Regions from separate parts of the Homo sapiens genome. Here all the other regions are linked to region 2. Evidence: fine-mapped expression QTL. A gene starts in region 2. Each other region holds a variant in brackets. All regions are shown on one strand. Distances are from middle to middle. Region 1 overlaps MYO7B (myosin VIIB). Region 2 holds the start of LIMS2 (LIM zinc finger domain containing 2). Region 3 holds the start of GPR17 (G protein-coupled receptor 17).

What was found.
Region 1: its variant is fine-mapped to the expression of LIMS2 in whole blood (INTERVAL, PIP above 0.99).
Region 3: its variant is fine-mapped to the expression of LIMS2 in esophagus muscle (GTEx, PIP 0.96).

Annotation. Positions count from the first base shown.
Region 1 is chr2:127,632,258-127,642,271 of GRCh38, reverse strand. It overlaps MYO7B (myosin VIIB), which reads right to left. Exons shown (of 48, transcript NM_001393586.1): 39 at 9,871-10,014; 40 at 8,909-9,014; 41 at 7,983-8,096; 42 at 7,589-7,676; 43 at 7,046-7,152; 44 at 6,365-6,550; 45 at 5,948-6,064; 46 at 5,644-5,727; 47 at 5,359-5,478; 48 at 4,546-4,956. The coding sequence ends at 4,855. LIMS2 (LIM zinc finger domain containing 2) reads left to right here. Exons shown (of 10, transcript NM_001161403.3): 6 at 73-223; 7 at 1,284-1,376; 8 at 1,954-2,002; 9 at 2,127-2,202; 10 at 2,844-3,846. The coding sequence ends at 2,991. Among named protein-coding and RNA genes, the nearest start is that of MYO7B-AS1, 6.5 kb to the right of the region's middle. RefSeq lists enhancers at 2,633-3,578, 3,579-4,525, 4,526-5,472, 5,473-6,419, 8,716-8,945 and silencers at 9,216-9,265, 9,366-9,455. The variant TGTTG/G (reference allele first, on the strand shown) is at 3,806.
Region 2 is chr2:127,670,503-127,680,516 of GRCh38, reverse strand. It overlaps LIMS2 (LIM zinc finger domain containing 2), which reads left to right and starts at 4,987. Exons shown (of 10, transcript NM_001161403.3): 1 at 4,987-5,503. The coding sequence starts at 5,493.
Region 3 is chr2:127,645,731-127,655,744 of GRCh38, reverse strand. It overlaps LIMS2 (LIM zinc finger domain containing 2), which reads left to right. Exons shown (of 10, transcript NM_001161403.3): 3 at 849-915; 4 at 1,201-1,321. It overlaps GPR17 (G protein-coupled receptor 17), which reads right to left and starts at 9,592. Exons shown (of 2, transcript NM_001161417.2): 1 at 9,501-9,592; 2 at 3,106-5,029. The coding sequence starts at 5,009. The coding sequence ends at 3,990. RefSeq lists enhancers at 3,279-3,358, 3,878-4,603, 4,604-5,331, 5,737-6,031, 6,058-6,785 and 1 more. The variant C/T (reference allele first, on the strand shown) is at 6,145.

The DNA of each region.
Region 1 (10,014 bases), 38 kb after region 2:
GGTGGAGGCGCTGCTGGCATGACCCTGCAGAAGGGCAGGGGTGGCACCTGGGGGCTGCACGCTGTCTTCCAGGAAGGAGCTGACAGCCGAGGCCCGCGAGCTGAAGGGTGAGCTCTACTGCCTGCCCTGCCATGACAAGATGGGCGTCCCCATCTGCGGGGCCTGCCGCCGGCCCATCGAGGGCCGAGTGGTCAACGCGCTGGGCAAGCAGTGGCACGTGGAGGTGAGCCAGGCTGGTGGACACGTGGCCTCAGGTTGGGGGGTGCCCCAGCTCAGGGTCATGGTAAGAGCCCTAAAGCTCCTCCACACTCCCAGCCCAGGGCGGGTGGCTGGCTCCCAACGAGGCCCTTCCTCAGGGGTACTGCCCCTCCCTGTGCTCAGCCAGGGACCCCAGCCTGCCCACGGGAGCCAGGAGACCCGAGTGCACACACACGGTTGGGTAGCTGTGCCCACCTCTCCTCTTCCCCCTGCTGGCATTCTAAGAGACTCCAAGGTCAGGAGAAAACCTTGGGGGCAGTCTGTCCAGAGTGCCTGGGGGTTGTGGATGACAGAACCCGCTGCATGGACAGCCCTGTGCAGACACGGAGCTGAAGAGTTCCTCAGGTGTGAGCACTGGGTCACCTGGAGTGCCCCCACCGGGTGGTGGGCTCTCATGTTCTCATGGGTACACTGGGAACAGTGAGCCCACCACCTCCCCTGATGACCTGGCCAGCGCTGTGTCCGGAAGCTGTGCCTTGGGTGGCGGCTTGGGTGGGAGGCCATGCGGTCCTGCCCTGATGCAGGCCCCAGCCCCCAGCCCTCATCCTCACATGCAGATCCCTGGGGGAATGCAAGGTGCTGCTCAGTGATCCCAGGCTTGCAGGGGGTGCCTGCAGGAGGCCCCACGTGGACAGGCAGGGCCGCCTCTGCCTATGAGGGCCCACCATGCCGCAGCACCAGGCTGGCACCTGACTCCTGGGGCTGAGGCTGCCGAGGGGGAGGCCAGACTGGGAGGGGATGGTGACTCACAAGGTTACCATCAGTGCCTTAGAGGAGGGGTAGGGTCTGCTGACCCCAGGGCATTCACAGAGGTGTCAGTCCCCTCTGCCCAGTGTGAATCCTGAAAGGCCTGCACCTGCCCAGACTCTGCTTTCTGTCCCCTTCTGTCACTGCTGCCTCCTGGGGCCACTGTGGTCCCCTGGAGTCACTGGCTCCTGGGGTCACTGTTGTCCCCGGGTCACCACTGTCCCTCGGGGTCACCGCTCTAGCCCTGATGCCACCCGGCCCGCCCTTTGTCCTTGCAGCACTTTGTCTGTGCCAAGTGTGAGAAGCCATTCCTGGGGCACCGGCACTATGAGAAGAAGGGCCTGGCCTACTGCGAGACTCACTACAACCAGGTGAGCCCGGTGCAGAACCTTCAGGGATGCGGGTCTGGAGGGGTGGCCAGGAGAGCTGCCGTGAGCAAGGGAGGCTGTGGGCACCCCCTCAGGAGCTCTGCCAGGTGCTGAGCCCAGGCCTGCACCCTCAGCCCTGGCTCCTGGCCTGGGGTCTCGAGACCTGGGCAGCTCTCTTCAGTCTCAGTGTCTTCCTTTGAAGAATGTTCTGGGGCTGGTGTGAGGTCCCGGGCACATGGGGCTGACAGTGCCAGCAACCCCCTCCCTCCCTTGCTCTGGTACAGAAGGCAGGGGGCGCTGGTGGGATGCAGTCACCACCTGGGCCCACCTCCTTGCAGGACAGCAGTGGCCAGAGCAGAGGGGCCTTCTGGGGAGCAACGCCCCAGCCTGTTGTCCTTCCCGGAAGGGTGGTTCTCATGGGTTGCCGTGCCCTCAACCCAGCCTTGCAGCTGGGCCCTGGGAGGCAGGGCCTGGGAGATGCCTGAGAGGGGCCGTGTTGGAGGGCCAGGCTGGCTGCATGATGGCCCTGGGCTGGGGTGTGACTGCCTGCAGCTACTCTGACAGCCTGCTCGGCCCACAGCTCTTCGGGGACGTCTGCTACAACTGCAGCCATGTGATTGAAGGCGATGGTGAGGCCCTGTGTTCCCTCCCCCACCCCACCTGCTCTCCTGGGGCCTGGGTGCTGCAGCTGTGAGCCCAGCCGGGCCTGCGGCAGCCTAGCCAGGCCTGCTGAGTCCCACGCTTCCCTCACAGTGGTGTCGGCCCTCAACAAGGCCTGGTGTGTGAGCTGCTTCTCCTGCTCCACCTGCAACAGCAAGCTCACCCTGAAGTGAGTCCCTGTGATCGTGGGATGGGGCTCAGGGTGGAGGGGGCTCCTGCAGGTCCTTCCTCTCAGCAGCCCTCCTGCACACCAGCTGAGTCTGGCCTGGGGATATGGTGGGGACAAGGGGCAGCCCGGCCTTATACCACCCAGGGAGATGGGGGCAGGTTCAGGGGGTCTAGGGGATCCAGGGACCCCAGGGACCCCAGGCACAGTGAGAGGAGGAGGAACACTCATGCCTCCAACACACCTGCCAGAACCCTGGGCTCTGGGGAGGGAAGGGCATTCCAGCTCAGGGAACAGCATATGCAAAAGCAGCAGTGTCAGCTGCTCATCCAGGAAGCCTCGAGGGGTGTGGGATGGCTGGAGCTGGGAGAGGAGAGATGGCGTCCAGGTTTCCAAGGGCTGTGGGGAGGCATAGAGGGTTCTGGGGTTTCAGAACCTGAGAGAAGCCTCTGGGAGGCAAGGGAAGCCTCAAGGCCCTTCTCATCCCTATGCTCTCTGGCCATCTCACCCTAGGGCCTGGCCTGCTGGCTAGGAGAGGCTGGTGTGGGGAGGCTGGGGGCTGAGGGAAGCCCACTCCACAGTCACCTGTCTGGGGTTAAAGGGGTGGGCGTGGGGCTCTGCTGACAGCTCAGCTTCCTCCTCAGGAACAAGTTTGTGGAGTTCGACATGAAGCCCGTGTGTAAGAGGTGCTACGAGAAGTTCCCGCTGGAGCTGAAGAAGCGGCTGAAGAAGCTGTCGGAGCTGACCTCCCGCAAGGCCCAGCCCAAGGCCACAGACCTCAACTCTGCCTGAAGGCCCTCTTGCGCAGCTGCCTCTCGGCCCCTCCGCCTTCTCCCCTCCTGCTGTCCATGCTTGGCCCCCTCGTCCCCATCCACCTGTGCCCTCCGCATCTTACCCTCCCTTTCTCTTTCCTCATTGCCTTCTCCCTTCCTGTTCCCTCATCTCTGCCTTCCCCATGTCTCTCCTCTCCTTGGCCGTGGCTTCTGTCTGTGAGGAGGCAGGAGCTGGGGAGTGGGAGCCTATGACCCCACGTCTGACAGCCATGTCCACCTGTGCCCACAGCTTCCGCCCACAGACCTCCAGGGACAGGAGCAAATTGCACCACAGCTCCCCGCCTGGCCTGGCCCTCCCCAGGCGGCTCAGTGGCTCATGCTGTCCTGTGAGAGCCCCTGCCCCAGAGCGGCCCCACTAAGCGCATGTGGCTCCTGGGCTACCCACAGCCAGGGCAGCCTGCTGGAGCCACAGGGCCAGGGCCATGCAGATGGAGGCCTCTGGGAGCCACCTCCAATCCCTCACCACTCACTCAACCAGTGGCACAGTGTCCTTGTGCCCACACTGAGCCAGCAAGTCCTGCTGTCCACACCCACAAGCTACCTGGAGGGACAGGACCCACCTCCATCCTTCGGAAGGCCTTCCTGGAATCCCACCTTGGCCTCCGCCCTCGGTTCCGCCCCGCCCCTCTCCCCCCGACCTTGGGGCTTGTGTCGAGCCCTTGGGTGGGGCCAGGAGGAGGTGATGGCGTCAGAGGAGGTGTGGTCAGAGGTGACTTGTTCCCACCTCCAGGGAGGACGCTTCGTCTTCGGCCAGCGCAGACCTGGTGTTTGTT[TGTTG/G]GGCTCACGCTTGCACAATGAAGGCTTGTTCACACAACCACAGCAGCCTGCGTGGTTTGTGGCGGGGGTCGGGGGTGGAGGGGATGGCAGCAGCTCTGGACACGCTGCTGCTGGGGCAGTTGAACAGAGGGACAGACATAGACAGGCACGAGTTCAGGGGGCCCTAGCCTCTATCCCAGGCCAGGCTGCCATAAGCAGTTGAAGACTAGCCCTGCCAGGTCCTCACAAGCCTGGGTGGCCAGGTCCACATAAGCTGGCCCAGTGGGCAGAGGAGGAGGTGGGCAGGGACAGGGCATGCCAGCGAGGTGGGGGAATCCAGGCCTCCAAGGTGCTATGTCCAGCTCTGCCCACTGTCTGTCTGGGCATAAGCTGGCCATAGCATGAAGCCAGCAGCCAGAGAGCCGCACCTCCACCCTGGCCTCCTGGGGGTAGCGCAGGCGTATCAATGCCCCGGGTGGGGAGAAGGACAGAAGGTGTGAGGAGGGGCCTGGGAGGAGAACTCTCCCATGAGTGCCCCTCCCCAGTCTGAGAAACAGGAAGGAAGGAAGGGAGGGGGAGGAAGGAAGCAGAAAGGGAGGGATGAAGTCATTTCTGGAGAATGCAGCTGCCCTCCGGGTTCCCTGGGGGAGTCAGTCACACGGCATTTTGGTTTTTCTGCAGCTCTCTGCGGGCCAGAGCCTCCCAGGCCCCCTGTCCACCTTGTGCCACACCCTGCTCCCTCAGACAGACACACTTCTCCTGCTCCAGGAGTTTTTATTGAACATTCTGGTGGGGTGGGGTGGGGTTGGGAGGTGTCCTGTCAGTCAGTCATCCACCAATAGCCTGGGGGTCCGAGACTCCCGACCCCATTCTGGGCCCGTCTTTTGGCCTCCCTGGGCAGCGCCCAGGACAGAGGGGGCCGCCTGCGGGGCTGAGTGGGCTTTGTATGGGGGGCAGCATGGAAGGCTGCCCGCCAAGGACAGGCCCTGGGTTGAGAGGGCCTGGGAAGGTGCCGCCAGGCTAGAGGTCGGGAAGGGCGCCTGAGCAGACACGCCAGCATCCGCTGCTAGGTGCTGGCCAGGGCTGGGGCCTTGGAGCCCCGCTGCTTGTTCATGGCACTCAGGAGCTGCTGCACATATGAGGTCAGCAGGTCATCCATCTTATAGCCCTGGACAGGGGACGGGGGGGTCAGAGGCTGTGGGTGCAGAGGGCAGGTGGGGGTCCTGGACTCAGGGACCACCTTCTCTTCCTCAGCAACCAGCAGTGCAGGGCATGGAGAAAGGGAAGGCGGGCTCCTGCCATTGGGGCCGTCATTTCTGCTTGCCCTGCTGGAGCTGGGTCTCCCTCCCTCCTTGGAATGGGCCAAGGGCGCAGGGGGTCCCGCCTGGCCTTGCCACCTTGGCTGCTGGTCCTGGGGATGCACCCAGGCCCTCTCCAGATCTGCTGGCCCCGCCTGGGCCCTGTGACTGAGCCCTCTTAGTGAGCCACTTGAAAGGGGTGAGGGTGGGGAACCCAGTCTCCAGCAGCTCTGTCCTATGCATCTTGGATGGGAGAAAGAACCTGAGCTCACCAGGGAGGTCTCGCACAGCAGGCGGCTGCCACGGCCCAGGCTCCCCAGCGCCATGTGGAAGTAGGTGCTGCCGCTGCTCCAGCTGGAGATCTTGGTGAAGGGATAGGTGGTGAGCAGGTCCTGGGGGCAGAGAGGGTGGGTGGGCCGGACGCCTCCAGAGCACGGGCTCTGTGTGTGTTAGGGGACAGGAGAGAGGCAGGACACACCGCAGAGATGACTGCAGCCCCACCTGCACAGGTCCCTGGACCTGGTGGCCCCCAGCCCCTCCGGAGGCCCAGCAGCTACCTTGGTCTTGGGGTGGATGAGCAGAACCCCATGTCGGTTGATGGCGATGAGGATGACGTCCGGGTAGGAAGGCTCCGAGGTTTGCTGGGAGGGAGGGACACGGCGGTCATAGTCCAGCCCGGGAGGCCAGGCTGCACCTCCCAGGAGCTCATCTAGGCCACACGCACATACACACATACACCCACGCCCTCCAGCCTCACGGCCAGCCCCACCCAAGATGTGTGCTGGTTGACGCTGGGCCTGCTGGGGCTGGGCTGAGCGGAGCCTGCTTGGGTAGGAGGCCCTGGCGTGGGGCAAGGTTTACCTTCACCTCGAAGAAGGCGGATCCGAAGGTGGGCCACCGGCAGATCCACTTCAGGAAGGCCACCTTGGCCTCCTCCACTGTCTTGTCCTTATGCTTGTCATAGGCTAGAAGGATGCTCTGGGGGACAGGAGGGCCAGTAAGGACTTGGGTGCCCAGAGGCCCTCCAAAGCCCTGGTGGGGGCAGCACCTGCCTACCCCAGGGCTAGTACGGTGGGGAGGGGAGGGGAGGAATGCAGCATGGGACAGTCTCGGTGCTGTGGATGGCATAGGAAGGCGTGGTGTGTGCAGAGCCAGCCCACCCTCCACACCACCCATGTGCACCCATGTGATCTTGGAGCCCAGGCAGGGCATGGCACTGGTGCAGGGGCCCAGGGAGGAGCAGCAGCACAAGAACCCTTCCCCAGCCCGACCAGGGACCTTTTTCCACTCCTCCGAGGACATCAGGCGTGTGAGGTTCTCAGGCACCAGTTCCCTCAGGATCTTGGGGACACTAGCCAGCTGGGACCGGTCGTTGTTGAACTGGGCCTTGTAGATGAGGCCCGCCAGGTGGATGGCATCCTCCCGCGAACACTTGTGGAATCCGCGCAGGTACTTGGGCAGCTCCTGGGTGATGGACACACTGGGCATGCTGGGTCTCCAGCTGCGGCCCACCCGCCCCCAACCTCTTTCCCGCTCAGATGGTGGGGAACTGGGGCTTAGCCCACTCCATCCAGGACGGACTGAGCAGGGTAGAGAGTTTCAGGCCAGGGGAATGACCCTGAGTCAGGGCAGGGCCCCCTGACATCTGCGTGGAGGTGATGGCCTGCTCCACCCATGTGGTTGGCCCTGCAGGCCACGGCCACTGCTCCATGGGTCACAGGACCCTCTGTCCCACCCTCTCCAAGTCATGCTGCAGGTGCCAGTGCAGTCACTGTCCCCAAACATTGCTGCCCTCTGCTCCTGGTTCCAGAGCCCTCAGGGGCTTGGTCTGCCTACCACATGGGCTGGTACCCAGGGCTGAGGCTGGCCCTGCCCTGGCCTGCTGGCTTCTACAGCCTCAGAACAGGTGTGGGAAGATGGGGGTGGCCCCAGTGCCCACCAGGGCAGCCTGCCCGGTACCTGGTGGTAATGGAGTATGGTGTCTGCATTCACATCCTTCCCTGGAGATATGTTGAGCCACAATTTCCGCATGAAGTACACCTGGTAGGGGAGCGTCACGGGGGCCCCTGGGCGAGGGCCAGCAGTGGGCACCAAGCCTGTCCCAGCAGGTACACCAGCCCTGACCCCCTGCCACCCCCCACACTGCGCCTGCCACCTCCCTGCCTCGAAAGCCCCCACGCTTCTTCCTCCCCAGTCCCCACATTTTCCTTCAATATTAGTGTAGAGGCTGCCTTCTCCAGGAACATTCCTGGACTCGCACTCCCAGCCCATGAGGGTCATGCCCCTCAGCCCTGGGGCATCCTTCATCACTCCAAGGTGCAGCCACCTGTTTCTGCCTGAGCTGGCCCTCACCGCCGGGCCCCAGGGCCTGGTTGTTCCCACAACCCAGGGACACACGGGAACGAATGGATGGATGAATGGGCATGGGCCGCACAGAGGCCGCCAGTGCCCCCTCGACCCACCCAGCCACGCCCTCCCCCAGCTCCACAGAGGCCTCCTCACCTTCTTTCTGGGGCTTGTTCTTCTTCACCCAGTCAGACACCTCCCTCAAGGAATCAAAGAAGAAGTCTCCCTCCTTCTGGCTGATGACCTGGGGAAGGGGAAGGTACAGGGAAGTTGGGTGGCTTCCGGGGACTGTCCTCCTGAGAACCTGCTGGGTTCTGGTCCAGTGGCCGCCTACGGCCTGGGTGCTGCGCTGGAGTCGGCTGTGCGTGGGCTATTGGCGTGTGGAGCTGGCTCTGCTCCAGGACCCCACCTACCTCTGTCCCAGCAGCCCTGGCCGTGCAGCCTGGTCCAGCATGGGTGCCCCTGGTAGGCTGAGGCCCCCACAGGCAGCACCTAGGGCCTCGCTCACTGCCCGTCCGCCCACCGTCTGCCCAGCCCCAGCCCGGCCCACCTTGTCTGAAATCTTGATGAAGAGGCTGCAGCCCTCCCAGGAGGCCAGCTGCAGCCTGGTGGCAATGCTGTCACACACATCCCGCACCCGTGTGTTGGCAACCACCTCCAGCATCTGGACAGAGAGGCAGCTGGTGAGGCCCGGGGCCTGGCTAGGGGCCAGTACAGCCCAGGATGAGCCTTCCTAGCCTGGCACTTTTGCTCCTTCATGAAACTTGGGTTGGATGTGGTCTGCCCTGAGCAGGGCAAGCCTCCCTTCCAGAACCCTGGCCAGAGGTTCATGTTGTTTAGTCCCAGCATTCGCTGTCCTGGGGCCCTGCAGGCCTGGCCTTTTGACTCGCCTTGAGAGCCCAGCAGCCAGACTGTGGGAACTTCCTGTTACCGGGACCCGAATATCAAGGCCAAAAAGACCATTGTGCTGTTGGAGAGGGCGCGAGGCGACACTGCCCACTTTGGCCTCTCAGCCCGCTTGTCTTTGCTGCCCCTGATCAAGGCCTCTGTGTCACGGTGGGGTCCTGGTGGTCTCCTACCTGCCCCCTGGCCCCTTTGTTCCCCCAGCAGCCATGGCAGGCTCTGTGCACAAGGCACACACAGTGGGAATACCTGCTCTCCTGCACCCCAGATGGTCAGAAGCCCCTAGGGGCCCCCAAGTCCTGGGACTCACCCTTGCTGCCCACCCCTCTGTCCTCTCCTGTGTCCTGGGCCTGGATCCCCCAACTCATACCTTGGGACTGGCCTGACTTCCAAAGCACCCAAGGGCAGGTGGGGCCTGCATCCCATGGGGAGAGGGCGGGAGACTGGTTAGGATGGGACAGCCCTAGAAAAGGCTCTCTGGGGTTACCAAGGAGCAGGCTGGGCCAGGAAGGAGGATGCCCCATGGCCTCTGGAGGCCTGAGACTTGCCGTGCAGACCAGAGCAGGGCCTCACCTCACTGGTGTCATTGGGGAAGTAGATCTTGTGGCAGATGCGGGAGACGTTCTGCTCTGCGGCCTCCACCTCCACCTGGTGCGGGGGCTGCTTCCGGGGCCCCGTCCTGAGGGGGACAGCGTGTGCTGCAGGTGCCACCCCCACCCTCATCCTCACCCATGCCCCAGCCCCGATGTGGGCCCTAAACCATGTGCCAGAAACAAAAGAAAACCCCAGTGACCATCACTGGGGTGGTTCCAGCCCCTCGCATGTCCTGGGGGCTGCCCCTGGCTCCACGCGGCCTCAGAGGTAGTGATGGTGCAGCTGTGCCTGAAAGCCTGGGGCACACACGGGGAAGGGCCAGGCCAGGGGCTCCCGGGAAGGCGCCGGCAGGAAAGGCTGGCAGTATTCTTATTCTCGCACAACAGGGGCATCGGGCAGGGGCCAGGGACTCTGGCAGGGCCTCTATGGGGCGCCCACCTCTCTCTGTGACCACGGCTGCCACTGAAATTATGGCCACTCCTACAGTCAACCTGCCCTCCTCACGGCCACAGGAGGCCAAGCCAGAGGAGGCAGGAGGGGTGGGGGAGAGCAAAGACGGCCAAGGAAGAGCTTCACGGCTGTGGGCGGATGAGGGAGGCCGCATGGACTTGGAAGGATGGGCCTCTGACCTCAGCCTTGAGGGCCTGGGCTGGGGCATCCAGGTTTCTCTCTATCCCTCAGGCAGTGCCTCTGTGCCACTGCTGGGCAGTGGTGGGGCAGGGGAGCTGGTGGCTATGACTGAGCCTTCTCTTGACCCTCCTGGGCCTCACCCTCCACCCTCTTCTCTGGCAGCTCGGGGCCCAATCCTGCCTGCCAAGCTGACACTGGCTTCTGGAGAGTCCTCCCAGGACCATGAGCTCCTGGAAGGCTGGCCAGGCCCCACAGCATCCCAGGTCTGCGGGCCCAGGGCCAATGCTGGGGGCTGGAGGCACTGGGCTCACCTCAGGACCTTCTGGATTCGGCGGCTGCAGTCGGGGGCCAGCAGCTTCCCCCTCCGAGTGTCTATAAACTTCTGGGCATGGGGCAGCAGCCCCTTGCTGGGCGGGAAGAGGCCCGTGCACAGCCACAGCAGCTGCCAGCCCCGC
Region 2 (10,014 bases):
TAATGACAGTTCTGAGGGCAGGCTCATATTTTTATTTTTATTTATTTATTATGATTATTTTTAAAAGACAGGAGATTGCTCTGCTGCCCAGGCTAGAGTGCAGTGACACAATCATAGCTCACTGTAACCTCGAAATCCTGGGCTCAAGCGATCCTCCCACCTCAGCCTCATGAAGAGCTAGGCCCACAGGCATGCACCATCGTGCCCAGCTGGTTTTATGCTCCTAGTTTTAAAAAGAGACATTTACTTTTCAATGTGTTGTGAAACCTGTGGGTGCCAGGGGCGGTGTCCTGCTCACTATTCTTCCTTTGGCCCAGGGAGCCGCCCGGGAGGGCTCCGGCTGTGCAGGTGCTTCCCCGCTCCCCCCCGGGGGGTTCTCACAGCCACTTCCCAAGTTAACTTTGGTCTCGCAGGAGGCGGCTGAAGGCTTTGAACTTTGTGTTGATATTCGGCAGGTCTCTGTGTTTTGCCAGTTCCCAGTGCCCTGAAAGGGACAGGCCTTAACCAGATTTGGGGCACAGGCCTTGTAGAGTGGCCGTCTGGGTGGCCTCACATCACACGGGGCCATTCTTGGAACAGGCAGGATGAACAGCCTACCTGTTGGGAAGGCATGCTAGCTCCTGCCCCAGGACCTGGGCTGTGGCAGGAGACCCTGAGGCCTCCTGAGAGCTGCAAGGCCTTCTCCATTCCCTGTGGTCACATGGGGACAGGGCTGTGGCTCTGGATATTGGCGGAGGCTCATTGAGGCACTTTGAGACCCCGGGTTCTCCTCAGCCTCCTACTGCTGATTAGCCACGCTGACCAAGCCCAGCCCCTCTCTTGGCCCTGGGTCCCAGCTCCCACGAGCGTTGGGCCCTGGGCTGTCTCAGGTAGCTGTCCCCTGGAGTAGGGAAGGGAGAAGGTGGGGGGTGGAGAAACTCGGGTACCTGCCCAGCAAAGGGGGTGCCCACCTGCCCTGAACCCCAGAGGGCAGAAGGCTCGTGCCCAGGGAGATGCTGCACCTCCTTCACCTTCTAGGACAGCTGTCATGTCACTCTGTGGCCCAGCCTCAGCCTCAGAGCCCCACTGTCCCCCAGCGAAGACTAAGTGTGTGATTCAAGCCACTCTCTGAATGTCCCTCAGTGATGCCATCCCATAAGACCTGGGAATGGACACTGCATTCTCACCTTCCCTCCCCTTCCCCTCCCCACTTCCAACTGCCGTCTCTTCTCTGCCCCCCCTTTCAGAGCATTCTCCCCCCAGGGGCACTGTGTGCAGCACTCTGGGGAGCACCATCTACACAGACCCCAGGGAGGGGTGCTCCTGGGGGAGGCATTGCAGGGGCCCTGCCTGCCCCTCTGCAGCTGGACTCAGGCCCCTCACTCCAAGGGACCGGCTCTTGACCCAAACCCAGATGCTTCCCTGGCCTCTGCACGCAGCAGTGTGCACACGGGGCAGTGGCGCACCTCCTCCCTGGAGCTCTTTCCCTCCGGGCTTCTGTGGCACCTCACACTCTCCTGCTCTCCCCCTCACTTTCTGCCAGTCCCACCTCTTACCCTTGGAGGGCTCCTGACTGGTACAGACACCCCAGGGTCTCCATGGAGCCCTAGAGTTGAAATTCCATTTGTACCAAGCCTTCTGCATCTACGCTGGAGAATGGACCTCTCTTCCCTGCTCCAGGTTCACAGTGCCCCGCCCACCATCTCCCCTGGGATGCCTGGGGAGGGCCCAATGCAACGTCACCCCTCGCTAACCTGCCCAGACTGTCCCACTGCCACCAATATCTAGGAAAGCAAGGCCACCTGCAAGTCCTCTTGACTCCCACGGCTGTACATTCACACCTGCCACACACACACCTGCCCCACAACCACCACACCTGTGCTGACCACGCCCACGCCGGCCACACACACACATCCAGATTCCCAGCAAATCCTGTTGGTTGCAAAATAGATCCTGTGTTTGATGCCTTCTCAATGTCCCTACTGTCGCACGGCCCAAGGCACCAGTCCCTCCTGGACGCTCACCATAGCCTCTAATCAGACTGTCCCTGAGACCACTCTGTCCCTCACACAGTGGCCACACAGCAGCTAGGGACACTTCCCCCTTTTGCTATGAAAAAGTTCAAGCACTCATCAAAGTTGAAAACCCAGATACCCACCACCTAGATTCTCCCATTAATATCGTCGTAGACTCACGTTACCACCTCTCTGTCCTTCCCTTTACCCATCTCCCCATCTTGAGTTCATTTTTTAGAGGCAGAGTCATGCTATGTTGCCCAAGCTGGTCTTGAATTCCTGGCCTCAAGTGATCCTCCCTCCTCAGCCTCCCCGTAGCTAAGGACTAGCTGGGACTACGGGGATCCACCACATCGGCTCATCTTGATTTAAACAATGTATTTCAAAGTAAGTTGCAGACATCAGTACCTTTCTACCTAAACACTTCAGCATTGTATGTCATTAACTGGAGTTCAGTATCGTTTACGGTATTTTTCTTTTGAGGTAAAATGTACATATAATGAAATGTGCAAATCCTGGCCATATATTCCATGAGTTTTAACAAAGGCATATACACTTGTGTGACCCAAACTCCTACTAAAACATTGCCTGTTACCCCAGAAACTCCCTCACATTCCTTCCTAGTCAACCCCTGTCCTGCCACCTCAGGGCAGTCCGGGGTGTAATAGACCAGCCTGAGGCAGCCACCGTTCTGATTTTTTCTACCACAGACAAATGTTGCCTATTCTAGAACTTGATATAGATGGAAAAGGTGCTCTTTTTTCATTCAGTCAGTATTTCTGAGATTCACCCCTGCTGATGCTAGAGTGTTGTGTCTGTCTTTGCTTAGAACTCTCCATCTAAGGGTGGAATCCTACTTCTGCTGTGGCCCTGCTGCTCTGCCCTGGGCCCTCTCCTTTATTTCCCGTGCCCCTCCACCTGCCACCTCCCCTTTTTCCAGACCCACTGGTCTTCTTTCTGACCTTGCGTACCCCAAGCTCATGTCACCTCAGGGCTGTTGCACTTGCTGTTCTGCCGGAATGCTTTTCCTGCAGATGGCTGAGGGCTGGCTCTTTCCCTTATTCTGGTTTAGCTTGAATGTCACCTGCTCAGAAACTTTCCCTCACCCTTCACTCTAAAGCAGCCACCACCATTGTCCTTTTCTTTGCAGCACTTACCCTTGTCTAAAATCTAGTTTGCGTATTTATTTATTTGTTTATTGCCCATCCTCCACCTCCTGCTAAACTCCATGAGAGCCTGGTCCATGGCTTCTTTCTCCCCCTAGTACTTCCAGTGCCCATGCGGTATAAATACTCTTGAAGGAACAAGTGGATAAGTGTGTGAATGTGTGATTGCCAGCTCTTTCCTGCAACTCTGCCCTCTTGGCTGAACTGTGGGAGGCTGGCCCTGGCTCCTTGAAGCCTCTGCATCTCCAGCAGGGCTAAGCCATGCCCACAACCCCTACCAGCTGTTACTGAGCTTGCCCTGGCCCAGGGATGAGGCACACTGGGAGCTGCATAGGGTCCTGGTTTGGCCACATACAGATCCGTGTGTGCTCAGCTATCATATGCAGGGAGGCTTTTGGGCTAAAAGGCAGGAATGTGGTCTCCTCTGTGGAGAGCATGGGCCTCTGGTGTAATGCTTTCAACTTTTCATCCTCTTTGGTTCCCACAAGACCCTGATATTCAATTAACCGTCCAGCAGTGGATTTCTGGTGCACGGCCCCAGCATGCCTACACCTCTGTGTCAGTAATGGTGGAAAGCCTTTCTCCCTGTATGAGCAGGTGAGCCAAGAAATTATCCATACTTAAGCTTAATCAACCATCAAATTACAGTTAAGCCGAATCAGCTGAGACACGCTCGCAACAAGAAGTAATAACTCGAGACAGTCGGATCACCTGAGGCCAGGAGTTTGCAACCAGCCTGACCAACATGGTGAAACCCATCTCTATCAAAAATACAAAATTAGCTGGGTGTGGTGGCATATGCTTGTAATCCCAGCTACTTGGGAGGCTGAGGCAGGAGAATCGCTTGAACCTGGGAGGCGGAGGTTGCAGTGAGCGGAGATTGCACCATTGCACTCCAGCCTGGGCAATAAGAGCGAAACTCCGTCTCAAAAAAAAAAAAAAAAAAAAAGTAACAACTGCAAAGGCACTCCACAATACCAGCCACTTAGGAACAGGTGTCTTTTCCCAGCTTATTTCTGCAGGTGGAACTGCAGGATACTATCAACTCATCTTTCTGAACGGCACCAGTTTATTTGTGGGTTGCTAATTCACACCGTCATTTCTAGATCATCTTTCTCTGCTGCCAAGACCGGAGTAGCACCACATTTACACATCAGGCCGCCCAGCTCCCAAACCTCAGTGTGACATCTGGGCTGCTTCCAAAGATGAGCTGCACGCCACTGTCCAGCTGGAAATATCTGCCTTTAGGCAGGGCGGGGGTTTTTTGTTTTGTTTGTTTGAAAATTTCCTCCGAAGAGATTCCCTAAATAGTTTATATTACCCCTCCATCTTAACGCCTCTAATGGTAGCTTCTCAGCGCTTCATTATACAGAGGCGTGCCTGGTTCCCCTGGAAACCTGGGAGCTGGGCATTTGGTTTTGTCGTTTAAGAAATATCTTTCGCCAAGTTAGGGCGATGGCCCGCAACGGGGGATGAAATCGGAATTTCCCGGGGAAAGCAGCTTTGCGACTGAAGAGGGACGCCTCTCGGCTTTAGCCTCCCTGGGGGCGGGACTGCGTGGACTCGGCGGTCCCGGGTGCCTCGGGAGGGAGTCAGTGCCCAGATCCGCGGTGGGAACTCCGGGCTAGGAAAGCCCGGGAGGGAGGTGGTCTCAGCATCGCCCCCACGCCTACCATCTCCTGCACGCGTTTGCGGTTGGGGCGGCCCAGGGACTGCAGAGGGGGCGCCGGGCGGGGCGTCCCGGCGGGGCTGTGGGGGTGGGGGTGCTTGTTCGCGTTTATTATAACTTTACTCCCTTTAAAAGGAAAGCTATGCCCGGAATCCAGGAGGTGGCGAGCAGAGCCCGGGTTGGGAAGGACTTGACCCGCGCCCGCCGCTGGCCGCGCTCCGTGTCCCTGGAGCTGGGGCTGTGCGGGAGCGGGGCCCACCCTCTACCTTTACCCCTACTTTTACCCCCACTCCCACCCCCGCCTCACTCTCACCCCTCCAACCCCACCGTCAGCCCCACCTTTAACCCCCACCCCTCCAACCCTACCCGCCGCCACCCCCACCTGCCACCCCCACCCCCACCTATACTCCCGCAACCTCCCACCGTCACCTCCCCAACACCCCCACCACCCTCAGCCTTGACCTCCCCATCCCACCCCGCCCCGCGGGCCCCACCCTGCCACCCCCGCCCACCCCTCTCGCGGGCGGAGCGGCTCTTGGCCTTTTTTGGGCGTCTCCCTGCTCCGCGGCCCGGGCTGGCGGGCGGGCGCTCGGCTGGCGGCTGCAGCAGCAGAGGGAGACCCGCGGCAACCCCGGCAACCCAGGGCTCGGCGTCGCTGCCACCATGACGGGAAGGTAACGGCCCCCACCCACGCCCCCGGGCCGGGGAGGCGGGACTGCGGGACCCCTGGCCGAGGCGCAGCTCGCCCTCGTACAGCCCCGCGGCGCCACGATCCCCGCTCCGCCCTGGCGCGTCGGATTCTCGCAGCTGCCGGGGCGGCAGCGCCCGTCGGGGCAGGGGTCCCCCAGCCCCCGCGCCTCTTCCTCTGGGCGAGCGCCTGCAGCGGAAGGTGGAGCTCCTGCCCACCCGCCCGCTGCAAGATGGGACAGCCGTCTGCTCACAACCGACGCCCAGGGCTGCGGGAGGGGGTCTTGTCCAAGGTCAGACACCAACCACGGGCAAAAGGTTCAAAGGTTGCGTGCCTCCCCCAACTTCCCCGAGCCCGCGCTGTGCGATCCCCGATCCCGGTGAGTGTCATCTCTGGAGCCTTCCGTTTCCTCCTCTGTAAACCTGGGGTGGTAAAAATGTTAAAAATGTTGAAGGGTATGTTGGAACTTGGCCAGAGCTGCGCCCAAGCACCAGCTGTGCAGGGGTTGGTTGGGGACAGGGCGCTCCCCTGGGCCTGGCCCACCCTCTGCTCTCAGGCCCCTCGTTGCCATTTCACAGATGAGGTCACCAGAGGCCACAGAGGCTGAGCCACTCAGGAGGCCAGTCACAGGTCCACCAGTGTCCGGCCAGTGTTTGTCCCTGCAGCCCTTTCTGGAACCTAGCTGGGTACAAGTGCATGACTCAGGACTGGGTGGGAGGGGGCTGTCCCTGAGGCCCTGGTCTCCCCCAGCCAAGTCCTGGCAGGGGGATGCTGTTCTTCAGGATCCCATGACCTGGGGCTCTTGGGGAGCCCCAGCCCGGAGAGTGACCTGTGGCTTTGCTGGGGAAAGGGGCTTGGAGGGTACAGGGCAGTGTCCAGGATTGCAGTCTCAAATCCGAGGCCCACAGGGGAGCTGCCTCTGTGATCGCCATTAAGGCTGTGGCCTGGGGTCTCAGGGCAGCCCAGGAACCAAAAATAGCCTGTAACTTGTCACTTTGTAAGTCCTGCCCTCCAGACACACTTCCCTTTCTTCTCCCCAAGCCTCTCTTCCCAGTTAGCTCCCCTGACTTGGAGTCACCTCTAAGCCTTGGCCCAGGCCCCTCTGCAGTGAGATGGAGGGACTCATCCCCCGGAGAGTGGCATCTGCAGGCCCACTGGCTGCCTGTGGTCACCCCCTAGGGTTCTAGCGGGGCTGCCTCCCATTTTCCTCAGAGCATCCCTGCCAGCTGGCTGGTTCTCACTCTCCTGTTTTCTAGGAAAAGAAAGTGGGGAGAGACAGGAACAGGGTCCGGAGCAGCCCCAGCAGCAGCATTGAGGTGGAGGTGGGTGAGAGGCGGTTCCTTCAGGCACAGGAGGGATGTCGAGGAGAACAGAGCCGTGAAGGGTGCGGGGCTGGAATGGGAGGCCCCGAGGTGCCACTGCTCCCTGGCAAGGGTCCTCTTGCCCCTGAGTCCCTTGGGCCTTTCCCTGGAGACGGAGGCCGTCAGGTGAGCCCGGCCGGAACCGCTGGGAAGGCAGGTGGTGGCGAGCAGGGGTCAGCCTTCCCTTGCTGCTGTGGGCTCCAAGGGCCTGAGAAACTCTTACCCTCAAATGACACAGGGATGACAGTCAGCCTTTGGCAGGCACTGTGTAGGGCGTTCCTCGTCCAGGCAATACTACTCGTCTTAGAGAATAAGGAGAAACCTGGAAACATAAAAGATAACAGAAACATAAAGAGAAGGAAACTGCCACAGTTCCACTCCCAAGAGCCTCCCTTTATGCAGTTCGGTGGCTCCCCGCAGTCCTTTCTCCTGGAGTTTGTTTGACGCAGCTGTGAGCGATCTGAGTGTAATGCACCCGCTCCTTCAAAGGTGACCCTGCTGCCCGCAGTGCTGGTGCCCCACTGGCTTCCCTGCCTTCCATACACAGGGATTGGGCCGGGCCAGTCTGTGAGGAACAGACATCCAACCCGGCCTTCGGAGTGGGCGAGAGTTTTCCTGTCCCAGAAGCAGTGGAGTTTCATTTCCACCGTTTCATGCTGGGTGCCCTTCCCCACGTCCACTGTTCCCATGTGATCCCGGGCAGCTCCTCGTGCCTGGATCCTGGTTCTCTCGGGATCCCCCATGCTGCCCAGAGCCAGGCTGCTTTTGGGAAACACCCTCTCTGCTCGCATACCTTCAGGGCTTCTCCCTGCCAGCTCTCCCTAGGACCTCACCAGGCAAGAGCAGAGGGAGGGCTGTGGGGAGCCACCAAAGTGACCTGGAGTGGCATGTGTGGCCATGCTGTCTGCAGATGAACCCATGGGTGCTGTGTGGAGAAAGGGCTGCTGGGAAGGAGATGGGGAAGGAGACAGAAGGCAGCCACTAGGGAGGCCTCTCCTGGGTGGCTGAGCGGGTGGAGGAGAGGAGGCTGACTCAGGGTTCTGGGAGGTGGAGTGGACAGGACCCAACTGACTGGCTGTGAGGTGGGCCACAGAGGGTGGGGCTCGGGAGGATGCCCCTCCTGTGATGACAGGTGGGGGTGGATGGCATGCTTGGTGTGGTTGTGGAGTGCTTGAAGAGCTGTGGCAAGTCTGAGGGGGAGCCGTGGGAGGCACCTGGGCATGGAGGGGCTGAAGCCCAGGAGTAGCCAGCTGGGCAGGGAGTGAAGGCAGCCCAGAGCATGGGGTGGCACGCCGTGGGAAGAGAGGGGGCTCGGCCTCAGCAGCAACTCAGGGACTTTGCAACTTACAACCACAAGATCTTTGACTATCACAGCTGAAGGGACCTCTGGCATCACCATTGTTCTACAGGGAGGATATTAAGGCCACCTACCTAGGGACCCAGCTGTCCCTGGCATTCCTGGAAATGGAGCCTGGGATGTTGACACCCACGGCCACGTGAGCTCAGTGGCTTGGCTGCATAAAGTGGAGTCCCACCCATGGTGTGACCGTCATGTGTGTCACATGTGAGGCTGTCGTATGCCTGATTGTGTGCTGAGCCCATGCTTAGTACAGCGCAGAGCAGGCTGCTAGATCCCTGCCCTCATATCCACCAATCTTGCCCCTCCTCCGGGTGAGGAGTGTGCCCGGTGGTCCCCTAGGCAGAAGGTGTCGGCCAAGGGGCAGCTGACTGCAGCTAGAGCCCTCAGCACAGCACACGAGGCTGCAGTGGCGTCAGGGGCTTAAGCAAACTGTAAAGTGGGTAACAAGTGATGTGGCTTGTGATGTGGCACCACTGAGCCCTGAGCCCCAGACTGGGCCAGGTGGCACTGCCATGGCCCCTCACCTCCTTCCTTTTTCTTCTACTTCTGGTGCTGACTGGCCCCTTCTAGCCGGCCAGTGGCATAATAGGGATGGAGGGACTGATCTGCAGGGTGTCCAGTCCCGTGGTGTGATACCCCCACCTGGGCTCATTTCAAGCCACCAACATGGCATTAACGCTTTACGGAATTCCTGAATAGTTAACAGTCAGCACTTGTGAACTGGCAAGGGACAGCCCAGGGAGCCACTGGGGAGAGGAGCCCGGGCTTTCTATCCACAGCGGGTTATCCTTCTTCTGTCTGTCCCTATCTGTGCTGTGCCGCATGCAGGCTCTTTTTTTTTTTTTTGAGATGGAGTCTCGCTCTGTCACCCAAGCTGGAGTGCAGTGGCGTGATCTCAGCTCACTGCAACCTCTGCCTCCCAGGTTCAAGCAATTCTCTTGCCTCAGCCTCCCAAGTAGCTGGGACTACAGGTGCATACCACCACAACCGGCTAATTTTTTTTGTATTTTTATTGGAGATGGGGTTTTACCGTGTTGGCCATGGTGGTCTTGATCTTCTGACCTCTTGATCCACCCACCTTGGCCTCCCAAAGTGCTGTGATTACAGGCGTGAACAACCGTGCCCAGCCTGCATGCAGGCTTAACCATCCCTTAGGTCTTCACTTCCAGGTGGGAAAGGGGCCAAGGGAGGCACTGTCACTGTCTTGCTTGTTCTGTTGAGGTGTAGCGTGTACATTTCTGAAGGTGAATATTTACTTAGATGACTTAGCAGGATGACCACCCTAGTGAGATACCTCCATGAGTGAATGCATATGTCTTGCTGAGATGAGGTGACTGAATACACATATGAACATAAAACCTACTGTGTCCTCACCCACGTCCTTGGAGGAATACACGGGAAACTCATGGAGTTGTCTTCAGCCTCCCAGCGAGGAGTCTGGTGGGGGAGCTGGCTCTGGAGGACAGCCTGTTTGTGGCATCTCTGCCTCTGTCCGTCTCTGCCTCTGCCCACTGGGCTGAGGGCACGTGCCCCAGGGCCTTGGGGAGGCAGCCCTGCCTCATAGCTTGGGGCCTCAGTTCCAGCCTCTAAGAAGCCATGTAGTTGCATTCTTCATTACTCACGTGTTTTTTAAAATCTGAGACATAGTTCACATATTATTAAATTCACCACTTTAGATTGTAAAATTCAGTGGTTTTTCGTGCATTCACAAGGCTGTGCAACCATCACCATTAATTCCAGAACATTTTAATCATTCCTAAAAGAAACCTTGTACTC
Region 3 (10,014 bases), 25 kb after region 2:
TCCTGAGGAATGCTGTCTAAGTGTAGAGGCAGCGGGAGGGGTGGGCAAAGCTCTAGGAGGGGTGGCCATATGCCCAGAACAAAGCCTCTCTCTCTCACACACAGCAGGTGCCCAGAAGATTTTCATTGCTGAAAGAGTTTAAGCCCTTCCTGACTCTACAGGTCACTGGGTAGGGCTATATCCAGTTTAGTCTAATAAGACACTCATTTTAGAGAACAGGGAAAAACCAATTAAAAAACAGAAAATACAATTGTTAGAGGAAAGCAGAGGCAGGCTTTGGCCCCGCTTGTGGCCAGCACAGGGGCCCTCGCTGGCAGCTGCCGCCTGGAGGGTGTGCACACTGGCTCCTGCTGGCCGCAGCCCTGAGCTCTTCCCACTTCCCCGTGCCCAGGCCCTTCCTGCGTTCCCTTCCTTCTGTCTCCTATACCCGGGTCTTCATGGCCTCTGAGAGAGCTGGATACTCCCACAGAGAAGGTATACGAAATAGGACCAAGTGACACTACACTTCAGACTGGATCTCATCCCTCCTGGCTTAAAACCGCCTCGCCCCCAGCCTGTTCTCCGGACCAACAGGGTCCAGATCCTCAGTAGACACCAGTGGCCCTTTGACAGGTGGCCTCACGGACCTCTCCAGCTTCCACGGGGGCACCTCCCTTTGCACCCCACCATCCCAAAAGGGCCAGTGTCCTCTCTGGCCAGGCCTGGGACCCACTGCTCCAGCCTCAGCCCGGCATGCCCCTGCCTCAGTGCCTCATCCCCTGCTGTCAGGTCCTGACCCAACAAGGGCCTGGGCTGCTCATGGGGATGATAGGTGGTTTGCTTGTCCTCTCTCTGCGACCCCTTTGCAGTTTGAAGGCCGGAAGTACTGCGAACACGACTTCCAAATGCTGTTTGCTCCGTGCTGTGGATCCTGCGGTAAGGCCGGTGACAGTACACATCCTGGGCTGCCTGGGAAGTGGGCAGCAGTGGCGGGGGGCAGGGGGCCGAGGGGGTACACAGAACTGGCCCAGCTCTTTCCTAACTCCCCACCTTGCCTCTCTGAGCGGCAGCCGTCAGGCCCCCTACAGGCATCACCATCCCACGAGGGAGCCCATGGGCCAGGCAGAGAGCAGGCGGAGTGCTAGGTGGACAGGGCTTGGGAGGGTCCGAAGAGGGGACAGGCACGTGCTCCCCAGCCAGCAGGGACCTGTCTTCTTCCAGGTGAGTTCATCATTGGCCGCGTCATCAAGGCCATGAACAACAACTGGCACCCGGGCTGCTTCCGCTGCGAGCTGTGTGATGTGGAGCTGGCTGACCTGGGCTTTGTGAAGAATGCCGGCAGGTGAGGTGGCCGTGTTGGGCCAGAGAGGACTGGGCCACAGCCCTTCCTGGCACACCTGCCACCTCTCCTGTGTGCTACCCACTTGCTGAGGGCGCAGAAGGGTCCCGGTGCTGCAGCCTGCACTGATGTAGCTGCCCTCCCTCCAGGTCACCCCGGGGCGGATAGTCCAGCTCCCAGTTTACAGGGCCCCACGCTCAGCGAGCTCCTGGCAGCCTCTCGGGAGCCATGAGAAATCCTCACACTCTGCCACCCCCCTGGCCACCCCATCTACTGACCCCACCTGTCCACCTTCTCCTGCCTGTACCTGTGCAGCTCAGTGTGGCTGGAGGGAGATGCCCACATTTACTCTAAATTGAGGGCCACAAACCTCATGGGTACTCCAGAAGTTCCCACCTTCTGCGAACCCTTGGTCTCTCATCCTCCCTTCCCAAGCACTGTCCCTATAGCAGGTGGCCTTGTCTCCCACCTCCCCTGGCCCTAGCTCTGAGATCCCGTGCAGCCCGGCCTCTGTCTGTGAGCCCTGTTCATCCCCACACTTTCTCCAGGGCTTGCTTCTCCACGCCACTCTCTCGTCCTTTCTGAAGGACTGGGCTGGGGAGCTGGGTTAAAAACACTGCTGGGCCTTCCTCCCCGGCTTCTCCCAGCACACCCGCTGCCCCTCGCGTGTGCTACCCTGGCCTCATCTGCCCAGGGACCCACACCTCCTCTTGACCCCTCAGCAGCCCTCACCACAGCTGCTGAGGTGCAGAAACGCCCCCCTTCTGGCACCCGGGACCCTGAGTTCCTGTGGTTCTGCCCGCCCCCACAGCTGCACCTGCTCACTCCCCTCCTCTGAGTCACCTTTCTCCCTGTCTCTCCATGGGGAGTCGTCTGGGGCTCCGTGCCCGGCCCTCATGGCTGCCCTTGCAGACAGAATCCTAGAGCCCTAAATGGCACATGTGTCTGGAGAATTCCAGGCTCCACTTCAGGCCTCTCTCTCGCTGTCCTCAGCTGCCCACATGTCACCTCCACTTGGTGTCCACCAGGCATCCCAAACGCAATGAGGCACAAGCAGTTTGGGATTCTCCTCCACTGACCACCAAGGCTGCCTCTGCATGCGTCCCCTGTATCAGTGAGAGGCAGCGCCGACCCCCAGAGGCCCCAGCCATGCTTCCCCTGCCACACTCTCTCTGTCCGGGCACTCTGCTCCCTCCCGCAGCTCCTCCGAGATGCTTCCCCGACACTACCGAGCTCTTGTCCGTGTGCTGCCCGTGAGAGAGGCACGTGGCCTGGGGCCTGGCGTCCGGCCCACTGTCCTCGGAGCTGGGCGGTGCCTGGCATTGAGCAGCTTGTCTAAATGAAGGGCTGAGGGGCAGACGGTGCAGTGCAGGGGCCGAGGGACAGCACCAGGAGCTCGTGCTGACCAGCAACGTCGCCGACAGGGTGTGTGGAGCGAGCCCAATCTCCTTCCTGAGCCAAGGTTTGCACAGGGCCACTGCCCCAAGGGCTGGTTGGGGAAATCTGAAAGATGCTGGAAACGTTTTGGAAAGTCAAACATGCTACAAAAGCATGTTGCCGTAAGGACGGTGCAGGGTGGCAGCTAGAGTGAGGAATGAGGGCCCCTACTTGGCCCTCCCAGCCCCACAGTGCAGAACCTCAGAATCTGGGCAGATGTGCTGTGAGCTGCCAGAGCCCCAGCAAGAGAGCCCACGAGGCTGCCTCTGCCACTGTACCACCACTTCACCATTCTTGGGTCAGAGAAGTTCTGGGAAACGCTTCATGTTGACCAAACATAACAACCTGTGTAGTCTTAAAGCTACAGTTATATTTATGGTCCGTACAAACAAATACAAAAAAGGACATGTTAGGGAAATATCTGCACACTAGCAAGGGAAATAGCTCAGGCGGAGAGAGGCCTCTCTGGAGGAAGTGGGTCTGGGTCAGTGGGAGGCAGGTGCACAGCCCAGCCCTGGCCTGAGCTGAGCTCCCGTGACTGCACATGCTTGTCCAGGACTGGGAGGCCTGGGAGCCTGTCAAAGAGCTCTGGGGGTTGCAGGCTTGTGCGTGGGGTTACAGCAGGAGAGATCCAGAATCCAGAGCTGTGCTGAGTCCCTGCAGGCCGTGAGTGCTGACGTCCGCTGGCAACCAGCCTGAAATGTGTGGCCTGTGTCTCTTCAACTCAGGCAGTGTGTGTCTGGCAGAGGCACTACAGAGGGGACTCAGAGTACCTTGCACTGCAAAGGAGTATTGAGACTCCCTCCCCGTCCCCACCAGGACTCCCAGGTCCCTCTTCTGGGTCATTTGCAGCCTGCCTTCAGGGTCTTTCTGCTGAGCCTCGCCGATGAGCGATTCTGTAGCGGGAAGGAGGCTGGGAGCCTAGCGGGAAAGAAAGGCCTCCATTGTTCAGGGGTTGTTCTTCCGGCCTCCTCTCTCCCTGCCACAGATGAAGTCGTTGAGTGTCTAGGAGCCATTGTAGCCATCACAAGCCCCTGCAGAGGGGTGGCCGATGGATCCCCTTTGTCAGTTCTTCCTTTTTATGGGTTGAGACTAGGCGATCTAGAGAAATGGTGGGCATCTGCTGAGATTTCAGGTTGCTTGCTGGGGAGGTGGCTGGGGAAAGGGCAGATGCCTCTTGCTGGGTCTGCTGAGTCCTAAACAGTCTGCGCTCGGCCTGGACGGCGCCCCCCGCTCACAGCTCTGACTTGGCACTCAGCGAGCTCTCGTTGGTTTTCCCTTCGAAGCTGGGGGGCGGGCCCTTGAGCCTTTTGCCACAGAGCAAGTTGCACAGGGCGTGGCGGAACTTCTCAGCCACGAAGAAATACATGATGGGGTCGAGTGCCCCGTTGAGGCTGGTGAGGCAGGAGGTGATGCGGTTTGCCAGGGCCAGGATGCGCTGGGTGGCGCAGGAGGCCCCATGGCTGCGGTAGTGCAGCACGTAGACGGAGCGGTTGACGTGGTAGGGCACGAAGCAGACCAGGAAGATGGCCAGCACTATGGCGATCATGCGCACTGCCTTGGTCTTGAGGCGCTTCTCCACACGCAGGCCCTGCCGCAGGCTGCGGATGATCAGCAGGTAGCAGGTGACCGTGGTGATGAACGGGAAGGTGAAGGCCACTGCCAGGGACACCAGGGCATGGTGGGAGGCCTTCTCCCGGTACAGCTGCAGGCAGACCACCGTGTGGTTGGTCTGCACGGTCTGTGGGCTCACCAGCAGCGGGGCCATGGCCACAGCCACCACCACCCACAGGAAGGCACAGGCCAGGTGTGCGTAGAGGGGCCTGCGGAGCTTGAGGGACTTGACCGGGTGCACAATGGCCAGGAAACGGTCGGCGCTGATGCAGGTGAGGAAGTAGATGCTGGCGTACATGTTGAGGTAGAAGAGGAAGCCGGTGAGACGGCATGCGATTTCCCCAAATGGCCAGTGGTTCCCAGAGAAGTGGTAGACCAGGCGGGTGGGCAGGACCAGCACGCACGACAAGTCGGCCACGGCCAGATGCATCAGGAACACGTTGGCCGGGGTCCCGGACTTGTGGTCTCGGATGAAAAGCCACAGAGCCAGGGTATTGCCAACTAAAGCCAGGATAAAATCCAGAAGGTAGAAGGAGGCGAACAGCATGTTCTCCAGTGGCGTCTCCTGGCCACATTGCTCTGCCGTGGCCAGGGAGAAGTTGGTGATCAGACCTGGGGGAGCCACTTCAAGGCCATTCATGCTTTGGCTGGAGTCAGAGCCTGGAGGGAACAAGCAAACAGTTCACAATGAGCTTGCGATCTAGGCAGCTTCACGCTCTCTGAAGTCCAGAAGTCAGGCCTCCAATGCCTTCAGAACCTCCCACTTTCAAGCTCAGCACCGCCCACGGGGCTGCTGAGGGGACCTCCTTGTCCATTTGGTGTGCGTGAGCGTCAGAGGCATTCTGAACTTCAGCACAAGGCAAACGCAGAACCAGGGCTTGGAATTTCGCCGCTATGCAGCTGCACCCCTGCCACCCAGGAGATCTGAGGCTCCTCAGAGCTGGGAGGACCGGGTCAGTGCCATGGCGGGGAATGGGACGTGAGCCTTGCCTGGGTGAGGCTCTGGGTTTTCTGTTCTGCCTCTGAGGTGTGCTGTCTGAGTGACAGGGGTGGTGAGGGGCGGGGGCAGTGTGTCTCCGGGATTCCAGCTCCTCCTCAGCCCAAGCCTTGGCAGGTGAGTTCTGTTCATCCTGAGTGCCTGGACCCTCCCTGACCCACCTGCCCACAGGTGCAGTGGCCGGGGTGTCACCGCTTTCTGCTTCCCCTGACCATGGCTTGCCCCTGGCACTTAGGAGGGTGCCCCCAGGATGGCAGCAAGGGCTGTACCCTGGGACGTCAGAGGTCTACTCTTTTTACCCACCTGAGAGTTTCAGCATCTCTCTTGGGGGCTTTCTGGATCCAGCCCACCAACTCCGTTTGGACATCCTGACAGGTGGGGAGACCTGTGTTTAGGAGAAGCCTGTGCCTGGGTATCAGGCCAGCTGGGAGTATTTTCTCTCCCAGAGTAGATCCACCACCAGGGGGCAGCATCTCTTCCAGGAGGGGAAGACCCATTTTACCCAGCGTCAGAGACACTGGCCAGCGCTGTTGAGGACGGATCTGCAGCCCCAGAGAGGCCTGGAGGCCTCGTGGCTTGCCCACGTTTGAAGGCCAAGTGCAGAGCCCTGTGACAGTCCTGGGTAACAAGTCATGTCCGTCTGGTGAACCCTGGGTCTGGATAGGGTGCTCCCCACCCTCAGCAGAGAAACCCACTCTTGTTTTGATTTTAGTCAACTCAGAAGATTGAAGAAGGAGAGTGAGGGTCCCAAACACTCTGCCTCCCCAACCCAGGCCTG[C/T]GAGTGGCAGTGTGGGCAGGCGGTGGGGCCAGAGCAGCCCGCAGCCCGGAACCAGGGCAGGACAGCGCACCTGGCCTGCCTTTGAATTGGGGTCACCAGCGGGCTTCGGCCAGGTGGGTGCTGATGATGGCACAGCTTCTGGGGCTCCTCTGGGCACCTGGCTTCCCAGTATCCACCATCCCCACCCTGCACAGCCAGGCTGAAGCAGAGGCTGGAGAGAGGTTTGCATAAGAGAAGCTGGCATCCTGCCTGTGCCCATTGTGGCAGCAGGAGGGGAGGAGGCACGGGCCACAGCCCTGGCAGGGTCCTCATCCTGGGCGAGCCTGGCTCTGCACCGAACAGCCGGGGTCCTGCCTGCAGCAAATTCACTCTGCACATTTCTCCCTGCCCTTCCTTCCTTCCTTCCTTCCTTCCTTCCTTCCTTCCTTCCTTCCTACCTTCCTCTCTCTCTCACTTCGCTTTGCTTGTTTGCTTGCTTTTCTTTATTTTCCTTTTTTCTTTTCTTTTTTCTTTTTTTCTTTTCTTTTTCCTTCCTTCCTTCCTTTCTTCTTTTCTCTTTCTTTCTTTTTCTTTCTTTCCTCCCTCCCTCCCCTTCCTCCCCTCCCCTCCCTCCCCTCCCCTCCCTCCCCTCCCCCCCTCCCCTCCCCTCCCCTCCCTCTCTTTTTTCTTTTTTTCTTTCTCTTTTTCAAGGTCTCCCTCTGTCACCCAGGCTGGAGTGCAGTGGTGCAATCAGCTCACTGCAGCCTCAACCTCCAGGGCTCAAGTGATCCTCCCACCTCAACCTCCTGAATAGCTGGGACTACAGGCGCACACCACCACACCCGGCTAATTTTTGTATTTTTTGGTAGAGACGGTTTTGCCATGTTGCCCAGGCTGGTCTCAAACTCCTGGGCTCAAGTGATCCTCTCTCCTTGGCCTCCCAAAGTGCTCCTTGGCCTCCCAAAGTGCTGGGATTACAGGCATGAGTCACTGCGCCCAGCCCCTCTCCTCTTACTGATTCCACAGGGCTGTCTCAGGATGCTGGTGGCACGGGGCAGAGAGGGCATGGTGACTGTTCATGGACACAGCAGCCCCTCGAGGAGGAGGCTGGAGCCATCCTCATATGGAGGAGAAGCAGGCATGGTGGTGGCCCTAGCCCTAGGGAAGGGTGGGCCGCACCCTTCCTTCAGGAGAGCGAGTGGCCAGCTGCTGTGGCCCTCACATGGAGGGTGAGGGCTGGCCCGAGCACCTGGCCATCAATGTCCTCAAGCAAAGGGGAGGGCAACTACCTAATAATATTACCTTTTAGCTATTTCTCTAGGCAGGTTCCCCTACCTGAAAAGATTGCCCCCGGCTTCAGAGTGTTTCAAGATGCCTGAAGTTCTAACACCAGAGATGGTTTCCTGCTGCTTCCAGGAACAGGGTCTGTTCTTAGTCCAATGTGGAGTTCCTCATGGGGACCCCATTCCCCAGGAATCCAGGTTCCACAGTACTCTGACTTGGTCTGGCTGGTCTCGGCTGGCACTTTCCCTAGGACTGCTAAAACCACGGTGAGGGCGGAGAGCTGAGGGCCGAAGAAGGCGGGGTGAGTGATGCTTGGGAGAGGGAGACAGGCTTGGCTGAAGCCCTGGGGAAGGGCTGAGGGCTGTGAAGGGGGCTGTGGAGGAGAGGTAAAAGGAGGGAGGAACACAGCCCTTGACAGGGCCTGTGAGGCAGGGGAGAACAGGGAGCAGGTACCGGTGGGACGGTGGCAGGGGAGGGGGGCCCATGACTTTGAGGGTGTCGTGTTGCATGTGCTGGGGGTGAGGACCCGGAGACTGGAGGAACAGGGCTCCAGGGCAGACGCATGGGCAAGCAGAGAGGACAGCCCATGGTAGATGGGAGGGGCACACAGGTGTGCTGTTTTCAGGTTGGCAGGAGAGGAGGAAGGTGTGTGCGGGGAGGCCCTGGAGACTGGAAGAGGAGAGGGGGCCCAGTGAGTGAGGGGCCCTTGTTAGAACCTGGGGGTGGGAAGGGGCCAAGGTGGGTGCCCTCCACCCCAGGCTGTCCCTCAGGCCTGTGCTGTGCCCCACAGTGCAGGCATCACCTGGCCCCACGAGAGAGCAGCTCATAGGTACGACTGACCACTCTGCCTGGCATGGTGGGGGCCTGCCTGTGCTGGCTCAAACCAGTTTTAGCCCCATGTTGCAGGTTAGGGAGTCAAGGCTGAGTGTCTGCTAACTTGTCTTAGGTCACTTGACCAGGGGACATTGGCCCTGGAGCTGGAAGTGAGACCGGGGAAACGGTCTCACTCCCTGGAAGACCGCCAGGGTGGGGAGTGTGACTCAGTCTCAGAGTTTGCCATGGAGTTGTCTCCCAGGCTCAGCACCCCCTCCTGGCCCTGGGGCCACTCCCTCATTTTAGGGGCCCATGTATGAAATGAGAATGTGCAGCCCCTTGCTCAAAAAGGAAGAGTTTCAGGACAGTGACGGCAGAGTGTTACTGGGCTCAGGGCCCTGAGTGACGGCAGGGGTGGCATATCTCATGGCACCAGGTGGGCCTGTGGTGCCTCCTGCCTCCAGCCCGGGGGCCTCAGCCTGGGCACTGCCCTCCACTTCCTGCCCGGGCCGAAGGGCGTGCCCCTCGCTCTCTCTGGGACTGAGACTCCATTTTAAACAGCTTTCTGGTTGGTTTCAGGTTTGCTGAGGTTTCTTCTCCCTTTCTGTCCCCCGTTTGAGGAGTTCTGATACTGATTGTTGCAGTTTGGTCTGAGATGGGCCCCGCTTCACTCTCTGTTGCCCTTTAGAAACACAAACTTCAGTCTAGACTCGCTGGTTCCTCACGACTCACTGGTCAGACGGCCACCGAGCCGGTGTCCGTAAGAGGAAAGGGCGTGGCATGGGCCGGGGCCTGGGCAGTGTTGGGTCCCGTGGCTGTGGGTGAGTCGAGCATCTAGGACAGGTCATAGGCCTCTGTGGAGGTGGCAGGTGGGCATGTGTGGCCTCGGGGAGGGCCTGTGGTGGCAGCGCCATGGCCAGGTGGTGGCAGTTTCCTTTGCATTAGCGCCACTCCATCCCTGGCCCGAGCCCTCTCCCAGGCATCTGGCTCCTCTATGGGTCAAGGCTGCCTAATGGTTAGGGGCAGCGGTGCTGTCATTGCAGCCTGGACTGCCGGCAAGCCACTTCCCCTCTGCAAGCCCCCATCAGAGGGACGAAACACCGCTTTGTGGGCTGCTGTGAATTCAGACTGTGGTCAGCCTTCGATGCACAGGTCAGACCATCACCAAAGAGATGGGACGAGACAGGCTGCTGCCTGTCTCCCTGGGCAGGGCTCCCCGCTGAGTGTTTCCTCTGCTTAGCCCTGGGCTCCCAGTCCACCCCACCCAGCCTGCCCCTTACCTCTAGCTGCTGGTCCGGGAGGAAGGGACAGGGGTCTGCGGGGCAGCAGGTGATCTCCGCCCGTGGGTGTCGGTGGTGGCAGGGGGCTCCTTGCCGCTGTGGGTGGAACGCTGGCTATTTAAGGAGAGGAAGGGAGACCACAGCCCCTCTGGCCCTGAAAGGCTGCTTCATTCCTGAGGGGTCCCTTGTTGTGTCGGGCTGCTCCTCTGGCTGCTGCTGCTGCTGCCACCGGAGCGTGAATATTCTAGTGTGTCCCTAGCCCATGCCCCCCGCCCCCAGCTTGGCCACATAGTCTGAGTGTGTGACTGTCTCAGAGACTCAGAGCAGGCGGGGGCTGGGTGGGGGGCTTGGGCTGGAGCTGAGGGACACAACAGGACGTTTCAGAAGGGGATGATTTCCTACTGATGGGGGGCAGGGAGGGGCCGGCTGTCATGGCAACAGGCGGCGCTCCCAGGCCTGCGCCCGCAGACGGCGGAGGGGGCCTGTGAACGGAGGGTGGGAGGCCGAGGAGTCT